Regions from separate parts of the Homo sapiens genome. Here region 1 is linked to region 2. Evidence: fine-mapped expression QTL. A gene starts in region 2. The other region holds a variant in brackets. All regions are shown on one strand. Distances are from middle to middle. Region 1 overlaps WASHC5 (WASH complex subunit 5). Region 2 holds the start of SQLE (squalene epoxidase).

Region 1 (5,380 bases), 75 kb after region 2:
GCATAGGGAATGTTTAAGTACCCAGTTGTTGGACAAACACTCTGTATTCCTCAATGTGCTTTAACATTTAGCTTCTTGGTATAAACCAGGTTTGCTTCTGGGGTTCCCAGGGCCTGACCATCTCTCTCAGATCTGACCCTTAAGGATTCATACCCAGAGAACTGCAGAGCCATCAGAACTTTGGGGTCAAACTTCAGTAGCCAGCCAGCCTTTCTCATCCCTTATTTCCTCAGAGAATATTTCTTTACAAGGTTCTGTACAAGCATCCTAAGACTGGGAAATGCCTCCAGCAACTCAACAGGAGGCAATGAGACTAGGCCTGCTTTTCTGAACACCATGACTGAAATTCCACAAAAGTTAACTAAGCAGTTGCTTTTCCCATGTGTGACTCACAATCAGATAGGTCAATCATTTGTTTCTGATAAATTACGACCCTGTGCAATCAGGTCAGACAATTGCCAGGCACAAACGCAAAAGACAAATGTGGCTGAAGATAAAACCACAGACCTCTGGCAAGCCAAGGTTGTCCCTGGCATGGGTGCGAATTCAGGAGACTGCCGGCTTTCCGAACATAGACAGGGCCGTCAGGCAGAGTCACACAGAAGATGAAGATGAGGCTGAGTCACTAGAAAACCCCAGTTGGTTTTATGACAGGATAAAGTGAGGGCTTGAGTTGTTTATACGCTTGTGAATGCAAGACTTTTGGTAAAGAAGATTAAAAGCTGAGTCAATGTAGTAAAATCCTCAAATTAGAACTGGAGTTTATGTAAAAAATAAACTCAACTAATTAAAAACAGATTCAGGGATTAAAAACTTCAGCCATCGTGTTCATACTGTGGGTAAATTGTAAATGGATATAGGCCAACAAACAAGATGATGAAACAAACTGGAAAGCAGCTCTCAGGATAAAGGTTTAAGAAGCTGGAGAGAAGGCTGAGGGGAAACTCCACACATTTTCAAAGATACGAAGGATGAGGAAGTCCAACTGCTGTTTTCACTGTGGACCACCCATAGGAAGTGGAAGCAGACGGTAGCTAGAAGGACTGTGAAGTCATCTTGGCTGGAAGAGCTGTGAGACAGGGGCTACCATGTTACAAAGGAAGGCTACAGAGAAGTCTTGTGTGCACAGTTTTTTAAAGAGACACAGTCTTATCTGGAAGAACAAAGAAGTGCTGCACACAGTGCCTGTCTCAGAGTTGGTCCTCAAGGAAAGTTTGTTGAGTGAAAAACAAAAAGCAGAGGGCTTCACAGGCCTGCTGAATGACACACCTCTTAGGGGTAGGGGTATACAGTCCTGGATGAGGGAATGCATTGGTTAATTAGTGTTGATCCAGCATTTACGAAGAATAAGAAACTGTGCCAGCCCTGAACAAGCTCAGAGATGTTAATTCAACTTACTTATTTTTCTACCATTAAACCAGAGGTTGAAGCATTTCTCACAATCTGAACTTGATGGTCAAACTGTGTGAACAGAAGGTCTCGGAGGAGACCATGACTCATAAAAAGCTAAGATCCAATCTACCTTAAATAAGCACTCTGGTCCAGCCAGGTCATCAACTCAGTGGGCCCATATGTTTTTCTGTACTTTCAAAATCGTATCACTTATTCCATCATTTCTGTAGTCTAGAATTTCTTCTGCTTTTTGCTTCAAAACCTCATCACACGCCTGGTTGGCTCCTGATTCCTGTATGGGGTTTCCTGACCTCCTCTGCTCCCCTATCCCAAGCAATGTTTCCCTCTCTACTCTGAACTCAAATCACACCAACTGTCTGTTTGACACACCTGGTGTCTGTTTACTGCCTTGGACCTTGAATTAGTTTCCCGCTGCTGCTTTAACAATTACCACAAACTCAGTGGCTTAAAACAACACAAATTTATTCTCTCACCATCCCAGAAGTGACAAATCTGAGATGGGGCTCACTGGGCTAAAATCAAGGTGATGGCTGCGCTGGGCTCCTTCTGGACATTCTAGGGGAAAAGTCTGTTTTCTTGTTTTCAGCAGCTAAAGGCTGCCTGTATTCCTTGGCTTGTGGCCCCCTCCATCTTTAAAGCCAGCAATGGCCAGTCAGGTTTTTGTCACAATGCTATCTCTCTGGTTCTGACACTTCTACCTCCCTCTTCCTGATTTAAGGACCCCTATATTTACAGGCTGGGCATGGTGGCTCAGACCTATAATCCTAGCACTTTGGGAGGCCGAGGTGGGCAGACTGCTTGGGCTCAGGAGTTTGAGACCACCCTGGCCAACACAGTGAAACACTGTCTCTACAAAAAAATACAAAAAACTTAGCCAGGCATGATGGCACACACCTGTAGTCCCAGCTGCTTGCGGGGATTGCGGAAGTTGTATCGCTTGAGCCCAGGAGGTCTGAGTGAGCTGAGATTGTGCCACTGCACTCAAACCTGGGGAACTTGAGATCCTGTCTTAAAAAAAAAAAAAAAGTGGGGGGGGGGGGCGGGCTCTTATTTTATTATTCTTTTTTGAGACGTGGTCTTGCTCTGTCACTTAGGCTGCAGTGCAGTAGCATGATCTTGGCTCACTGCAGCTGCAACCTCCCAGGCTCAAGTGATCTTCCCACCTCAGCCTCCCCAGTAGCTGGGACTACAGGTGTGTGCCACCATGCCCAGCTAATTTTTTTACTTTTTGTAGAGATGGGATCTCACTGTGTTACCCAGGCTGGTTCTGAACTCCTGGGCTCAAGCTCTCCTCCTGCCTTGGCCTCCCAAAGTGATGGGATTACAAGTATGAGCCACCACACACAGCAAGGACCCTTATGATTACACTGAGTCCACTGGGATAATCCAGAAACATCTCCTTAAAGGTCAGCTAATAGGCAACCTCAATCCCCCTTTTTCATGTAATATATCTACC[G/A]GTTCAGGGACTAGGGCATGAACATCTCTGGGTGTGGGCTGGAAGGCACTATTCTGCCTACCACAGATCTGCAGTTCTATTTTTTCATATGTCTACATTTGATCTCCCCATTCTGATCAGTGACAAGCTCCTTGAACATGAGAGATAAACATCCTCTTATTCCCTAGCACCTAACAGTACCTGACAGGGGAGAGCTTTTCAGGTATGCTAGTGGCCTATCCAAGTTGACAAAAAATGACTAACTTTAAAAAGCAACTTGATTCTCATCCAAGGCCTCTCTCCCTGCTAAACCACTCTGCATCGTGAAGTAGGTCCTGATTCTGAGAGTCTTTATGTGGAGTAATATAAACGGCCACCCCTTTTGTGCATTACCTGAGTCTGCTGTATGAAGCATCAGCCATCGGATGGCAACATTGCAGTCTCTCAGGCAGTTCAGAAGCTTTGGGATATTGTCCAGAACCATCTCCTCCCTTAAATAACCTTCTTTTAGAAATTGCTGCACTTGAGCATGCACTCTTTCACTGACAGTAGCATATCTGCTTGCCTTGACAAATAAGAAACTTGAATTACATTTAAAAAGTCATTTATCTTGAAAATAAATCACATTCAAATGAATTCACTGACAAATAGTAACATTTCTATATAGGATGAATGACATATGGATTACAGTTATAGGGCTCGAAGATAACATTTCTATAAGATGAATGACATATGGACTACAGTTATAGGGCTCAAACTTTAACATTTTTATATAATTTCTGTACAAGATGAATGACATATGGACTACAGTTATAGGGCTCAAACATTAACATTTTTATGTAATTTCTATATAAGATGAATGACATATGGACTATAGTTCTAGGGCTCAAAGATAACATTTCTATATAAGATGAATAACATATGGACTATACTTATTGGGCTCAAAGACAACTGGCTTATTGAACATATTTGAAAAAAGCACTGGACTTAGAATTCTGAGACTACATCCTAGTTCTGGCTGTGATTAAACTTTGGTGTGACTTGGGGCTTAACCCCTGTGTATTGGTTTCTTCAAATTTCAAACGGAGACTTGGACCAGGTGGTTCCTCAGAACTCTTCTATTATTAACTTAGATGAAAAAGAAAATAAAGACAGAAGTTCAATTGCTTGTTCTTGCTAATACTGTTGACAAAGAAGGCAGAACAGAGCAGAAACACTTAAAATATAAGACTTCTTCTACAGGCTTATGAAAGCTTAGCAAAAAATACACCTTAGTATATCAAAAATGAATTTCCAAACCAGCTTTTTGGAAAATTTGGTCATTCTGCTTTACTTAAAGGAAGTCAAATGTTAAACATCATTAACCTCATCAAGTTAGTTGAAATCTGTGGTATCAAGAAACCTCTTAAAAATGTCACAAATGAGAAAATGCAATTTTAGAAAGGGATTTTAGCAATGAAAAATTAATGATCTGATGTTGCTAAGTATAAAAGTGCCACTTTCTCTAATATATTTCTAGGAGATGTGCCAACATTGAAATTATTTTGTGCATTATTTATGGAATTCAATTTACTTGAATAAAACATGATGAAGTTTTTTGAGTCAATATTGTTTTATCCACACAGGAAACTCAGTAACTGAGCCAGGATGAGGAACATAACCATTTAGAAATATCAAGTATGCTCCCCAAGATTTTATCTTTATTCCTCTACTTACTTGGATGTTCCCTTCTGCCTTGTGTAAGAACAAAAGAGATAGAATATAACCGTTTAACCTTTAAGATGAATGTCTTGAGTCTTGTTGCTTATTTAGCACAACACAAATGATAAATTTAAATTACAGTGACAGGACATATTATCCATATTCAGTTATCATCTTCATCATTCATCCTACTTATAAAAACATATTAATTCCAGCTATTGGTACAACCAACTCTGGCCATGAGAATATAGTCTTTAAGCAAAAGTAAACTAAGTCATTTGGGGCATATGCCATGCTTCTTTGTCTTAGGGTACTGACTCTTCCTTGGGATCCTAATCTTCAATTTACATATACTATATAACAAAACCTACAATTACCTATCTTATTCTAACCTATAAAATTCACCTTTTATTAATCATTGCATTAAATTATCTAAGTGATTATCTTCCAAATTCCTTGGGAAATCTACTTAGCTTATTTGCTACTTCATAAACTAGGCCTGCAGTTATCAGAGAATGTCCCCAGATTAGAACCTACCTGTTCTCTGACATTTGAAAGGTCCAGGGTATTATTTAAAGCAGTTTTTGCAGCTTTGTAAGGTTCCCAAGCATCTACTAGATTAACTGTGATCCCCATGTAAATACTAATTACCTGAAAGAGGAGACATTCAGAATTTGTTAAATTCCTACTCACTTCAAGGCAAAGGGTTGAATACTAAAGTTATAGAAGGCAATACCCACTCCATGTTTAAATTCCATTCCAATGAAAAACCAAGATTTTCCAAATATATAGGTAAGTGTTCCTGATTGTTAAGTAAGTGTTCCTGATTGT
Region 2 (5,380 bases):
ACATTTTCTGGGCTTGGATTCAGACTCTGCTAGTCACTAGCTGTGATCACTTCCCTGTGCATGAGTTTTCTTGTCTGTAAAATGGGGCTAAAAAAATAGTATCTTAGCTGGGTGTGGTGGCTCACGCCTGTAATCCTGGCACTTGGGGAGGCCGAGGCGGGCGGATTGCCTCAGCTCAGGAGTTGGAGACCAGCCTGGCCAACACAGTGAAACCCCATCTCTACTAAAATACAAAAATTAGCCGGGCGTAGCAGCCTGCGCCTGTAGTCCCAGCTACTCGGGAGGCTGAGGCAGGAGAATCGCTTGATCCCCGGGAGGCGGAGGTTGCAGTGAGCCGAGATCAGGCCACGGCATTCCAGCCTGGGTGAAAGAGCGAGACTCCATCTCCAAAAAAAAAAAAAAAAAAAAAAAGTAGTATCTCCCTAAAAGTGTTGTCAGGAAGCCAAAACGAGCTAATATATGAAAAGTATTTAGAATGCTACCCGTACTATATGTGTGAGCTCTTGTACGAAAGTATTTCTCATGTACCTACTTGATAGCATTATGGCTTTCTGCCAGTAAGCAGCTGATTTTGTCTCACATTTCATTGCTTTCCCTTCAGGTCTCAATGACAGATTTGTTTTTGAATAAATGAACCATGGCAAGATTCAAAAATACTTAAGCAATGCTTATATAACATTTAATTCAGTTCAGAAGATATAGGCATTCAGAGTGTGCTCTGCGGTAGGTATTACAAGTGCTCTTTTTGCCCCAAATTCAGAAGTGGATCTTGAACTGCCTAAAGGATTCAGACCTGACATTGTAAGAATGACTTTGTGAAGATAAAAACATATGAAGAAAGTCGCTTTCCAGAGATTAAAAAATTATCTACTTAATAAGAAAAATTCCTTTTATGATAATCTTGAGTACAGAGTTAGCAGGTAACAGCCATCCTGGTGATAACTGTATTCCCATCTGTAAGAGTCAGTTGGCCGGGCTTGGTGGTTCATGCCTGTAATCCTAGCACTTTGGAAGGCTCAGGCGGGAGGATCACTTGAGGTCAGGAGTTTGAGACCAGCCTCGCCAACATGGTGAAACACTGTCTCTACTAAAAATACAAAAATTAGCCGGCATGGTGGCACGTGCCTCTAGTCCCAGCTACCCGGGAGGCTGAGGCTTGAGAATCGCTTGAAGCTAGGAGGCAGAGGTTGCAGTGAGCTGAGATTGCGCCACTGCACTCCAGCCTGGGCCACAGAGCGAGACTCTGTCACAAAAATTTAAAAATAATAAAAGAGTCAGCTGCTCCTCTATTATTTTAACAAAACAGAACTCACAGATACCAATAAGCAGTTTATTGAAGAATTCTCTTCAGGAAATGATTTCCCATACATTGAACTGATTCTCTTTTCTGCAGTCCTTTTAAATTTGATGTCAGTTCAGACAGCCAAACTTACTGGTAACAGTGAGGAATATTGTAGAAGAAAGAATAAAAGTATTGGAAAGCAAGGCAGTTATTGATAATTATGCATACTGGGGAACCACAAGATTTGGAGACCAGGACTTTGACTTTTGGTTTCATCATTACGATTTAATCACAGCTGTGATTTAGTCAAGCCATTTAACCTCTTTAATTTTCATTTTCCTCATTTTAAAAATCAAAGTTGTTTTGAGGGTCAAGTGAACGCCTGTGCGGGTGTTTTACCAAATAATTATTTTATTAGCAGATAAAACATAATATTGGGGGTGAAAAGTTATAAGAGGTGCCATGTTTTTTTAAACCCTGCCAAGTATCTGATACAGAATTGCAAAGGATGTTCGAGTTCATGAAGAAGTTGCCTTCTCCCCACAGAGGCAGAGTGACTTGTAACATCTGTAAAAGGTCACAGTCTGGTTAGCGGTAGCCAGAATCTGGGTCTCCTAACTCTAGTTGCCTAGTCTTGCTTTTATGCGCCAGTGTCGTTCATCATTCATTAAATACATGTTATGGAGGATAAATTAAGGGCAGAGCATTGTGCTAGGTGCTGTGGGTGATCTTATCAGACACAGATCTTTAGGGAATCTAGAGATTAAAAAGTATGAATAAAGTTATGTGACTTGGTGAAGGTCAATGGCGATTTGGTGGAAGAGGTGACAATGCAGCCACGCTCCAAAAGGCAGAAGGGATTTGCACCTATTATCATAGGGGTTAAAGAAGGAAGTCCAGAGTTAAGAAACAGGATGAGCAAAGACACTGAGGTCTTAAGCCTCAATAAATTTTAGGTAAGTTTCATCGTAGTAGAATAAGGGCTGTCTCACTCCGAGACTTTTGCACACTTTTGCTCCCTCGGACTGCTTGTCCTGGACACCGTGTAACCTCCCCCTGGGCGCCTCACCAGACTTCTCCAGGCCAAGGGAAGGACCACCTCTTGGGTTTCCATGGCTCCCTCTCTAACCACCCCCTTCTCAGGACACCTATGACACGACTATTTGACTTCTTTGCCTCCGAGCCCCCACCCCCAACGTTTCTGGTCTTGAGAGAACGGGCTGGGCGCATCCGTGTATCTCTAGCCTGAGCACCTGGAGCGTCCTCTCCTTTTCTTCTTAAGGCAAAAGCCTACTCATTCTTCCAGCTTCAGCTGGAATGTCAGGCTCTCCACGCACTCATGGCCCTCCCTTCCGCCCTCTCCACATACACAGGGCAGGGAAGCTGTGTCTGATTCCTCTTTCGGACTCCGGGGACTGACATATCATAAGCGCTCAATAAATGCTAGCGGAATGAATGGAAACGTTCCGACCCGAGGCAGCGGATCACTCCAGGCTTCTCCTCAAAGCGAGCACACCTCAGTCCAGGGAGGGCGCAGGAGCTGGGGCTGCTGCGGTGAACCAACCCCAACCCCGACCCCGACGCCGATCCCGGCCCCAGAGCGCCTCCTAGGCGACCCCTGGCCCCACCCACGCCGGAGCCGGCCCGCGCCCATCCCCACGCCCCAACCCGCACCACGCAACATCGCCCTAGCGCCTTTCGGGGCGTCGCCGCGCAGGTTGCGCCGCCTCCGATTGGCCAAACGCGGCATAGCGCCATCTCGGCCTACCGCGCGGTGCGCGCCCTCATTGGCCGGCGGCGGCAGGAGCAGGGGTAGGGGGCGGGGCAGCACGCGGGGCGCGCGGTATGGGCGGACTCGCGCCTGAGCCCCGCCCCCGGTCCCTCGTCTGGGCCGAGCCCGCCCAGCTGGCTGAGACGCGTGGAGCCTGGCGGCGAGTGGGGGCGTGCGACGGTTACTCTGGTTACTGGGGCCGCGCCGCGCTGGCGAGAGCCGCCGCCCGCGAGGGATGCTGGTGAGGAAGCCGTCGGGAGCCGCCGCCGCCATCTGAGGGAGGTACCCTGGAAACCACCTTTTATCGGTGGGGAAGTGCAGTCGCGGTGGGCGGCTCTGGGGGCCAGCGAAACGGGAGGCCTCTAAATCTTTAGGTTGGGGCTGCATTGCCCTGGAGCCGCACTCTTGAGTCCGAGGCCATCTTTTGTTGGAGAAGGCGTCGGCGTTGGCGTTTTCCCGAGGTTGGGCTGTACAGTGTCTCCGTCCGCGGAAAAAGAAGCCTCTGAACCCGCGCCGGCCCGCAGCCCCCGTGCCTTCCGGCCGCTGCTCGCCGTCGCCAGAGGCTAGGCCACGTTTCCCCCAGTGCCGAGGTGTTTCTGTGACCCTCCCTCCACTCCCATTCCCTTCTGAAAGGGCACCTGCTCTTGGTGAGAAAAGAAATTATAGCACGAAGAGCCAGTATCAGAAGAGTATCCATCACCCGCAGCAACCGCTCAGGGAACACCATCAAAAAAGAAAAAAAGGGAATATCTGGATTTCCTGGGCGAGGAGGAGCGAGTCTGCTCGGGAGCTGTTCCAGCAGGCGATTTTTAAATACTGCTTTCTACGCCCTATACAACTTGGCTTCACATACTTTTACACTAACTTTATATGATTTTTAAAAACTGGTCTGATCGGACTTCTCGTCCTGGGACACTGTTTACTGGAGTCTGGCCGGCTCTCCGTGCTCCTCTTGGTACCTCATTTTGGGGAGAACCTTAAACCCACTCGAGCAGATAATCTCCGCCTTGACCGGTGCCACCAAAGAAGCCTTGGAACCATGTGGACTTTTCTGGGCATTGCCACTTTCACCTATTTTTATAAGAAGTTCGGGGACTTCATCACTTTGGCCAACAGGGAGGTCCTGTTGTGCGTGCTGGTGTTCCTCTCGCTGGGCCTGGTGCTCTCCTACCGCTGTCGCCACCGAAACGGGGGTCTCCTCGGGCGCCAGCAGAGCGGCTCCCAGTTCGCCCTCTTCTCGGATATTCTCTCAGGCCTGCCTTTCATTGGCTTCTTCTGGGCCAAATCCCCCCCTGAATCAGAAAATAAGGAGCAGCTCGAGGCCAGGAGGGTAGGTTGATTTCAAAGCGGGCAGATGAATGTCTTATTTAGGAGTAGGATTGGGTTCACTCAAATATAAGTTTTATTTGAATTGCAAAAGGCGGCAGGTTAGATGCTTGTATACATTCTCATGTATTTTTTATTTTAAACTCTGCTGTGCCTTGGTTACATCTTTGACCTTCTTAAGAATGAGTGAAGACATTTGTTTCATTTAGCATTGGTTGAGCCTCAGATGGAGGTTGGATATTTGATTATGAAAGATGGAACGAAATGTTAGAATTTCATTTTGAAGGAGAAGAACAACCACTTTCCATGATGAAAAAGTTTTTAAAAAGTTCTTGGGTAAGGATTGGATTTGTGCCTGAGGAAGAAAGAAACGTGCTGCGGGTAAGTCCACTGCTTGTAAGAAGTGACAGCTGACTGGGGAAAGTGACAGAACAGTTTGAAAAGCAGGCAGAAGGAGAATGCTCAACATTTTGAGGCATTGGGCTCAAAGTTCTCCTCCCCCGAATATTGGAGCATTGAGTAAATGCTTGTAGTAATGTCCTAACATAAAGGCCAGGTCTTCAAATAAGGGTGTAGTTGGGATTCCTGCAAAGGGAGCAGAGGCGGCCACTGGGAGAAGATGAGGGGGAAGAGTTTAGGCCAGATCATTTAGGGCATGTTGGCAATGAGTGTTCGGGCTTTTTCCCAAGAGTTCTCCCAAGAACACTGGAGGATTTTAAGTATGGGAGTAACTTTATTCGGTGTTTACTTTTTAAAAAATTTTTGTTTTTTGAGACAAAGTCTCGCTCTGTCGCCCGGGCTGGAATGCAGTGGCGTGATCTCGGCTCACTGCAACCTCCGCCTCCCTGGTTCAAGCGATTCTCGTGCCTCACTCAGCTTCCCAAGGAGCTGGGATTACAGGTGCACGCCACCACTCCTGGCTAATTTTTTTTTTTTGTATTTTTGTGGAGACAGGGTTTCACCATGTTGGCCAGGCTGGTCTCGAACTCCTGACCTTAAGT

What was found. PIP is the estimated chance that this variant, and not a neighbour inherited with it, causes the effect.
Region 1: its variant is the best candidate, but not a certain one, in a credible set for the expression of SQLE in blood mononuclear cells (TOPMed, PIP 0.74).

What each region holds. Positions count from the first base shown.
Region 1 is chr8:125,069,912-125,075,291 of GRCh38, forward strand. It overlaps WASHC5 (WASH complex subunit 5), which reads right to left. Exons shown (of 29, transcript NM_014846.4): 8 at 5,087-5,200; 9 at 3,242-3,413. Among named protein-coding and RNA genes, the nearest start is that of WASHC5, 19 kb to the right of the region's middle. The variant G/A (reference allele first, on the strand shown) is at 2,870.
Region 2 is chr8:124,995,312-125,000,691 of GRCh38, forward strand. It overlaps SQLE (squalene epoxidase), which reads left to right and starts at 3,194. Exons shown (of 11, transcript NM_003129.4): 1 at 3,194-4,383. The coding sequence starts at 4,093. It overlaps SQLE-DT (SQLE divergent transcript), which reads right to left and starts at 2,887. Exons shown (of 2, transcript NR_134457.1): 1 at 2,652-2,887; 2 at 1,677-1,849. RefSeq lists enhancers at 2,515-2,574, 3,505-3,554 and a silencer at 2,795-3,294.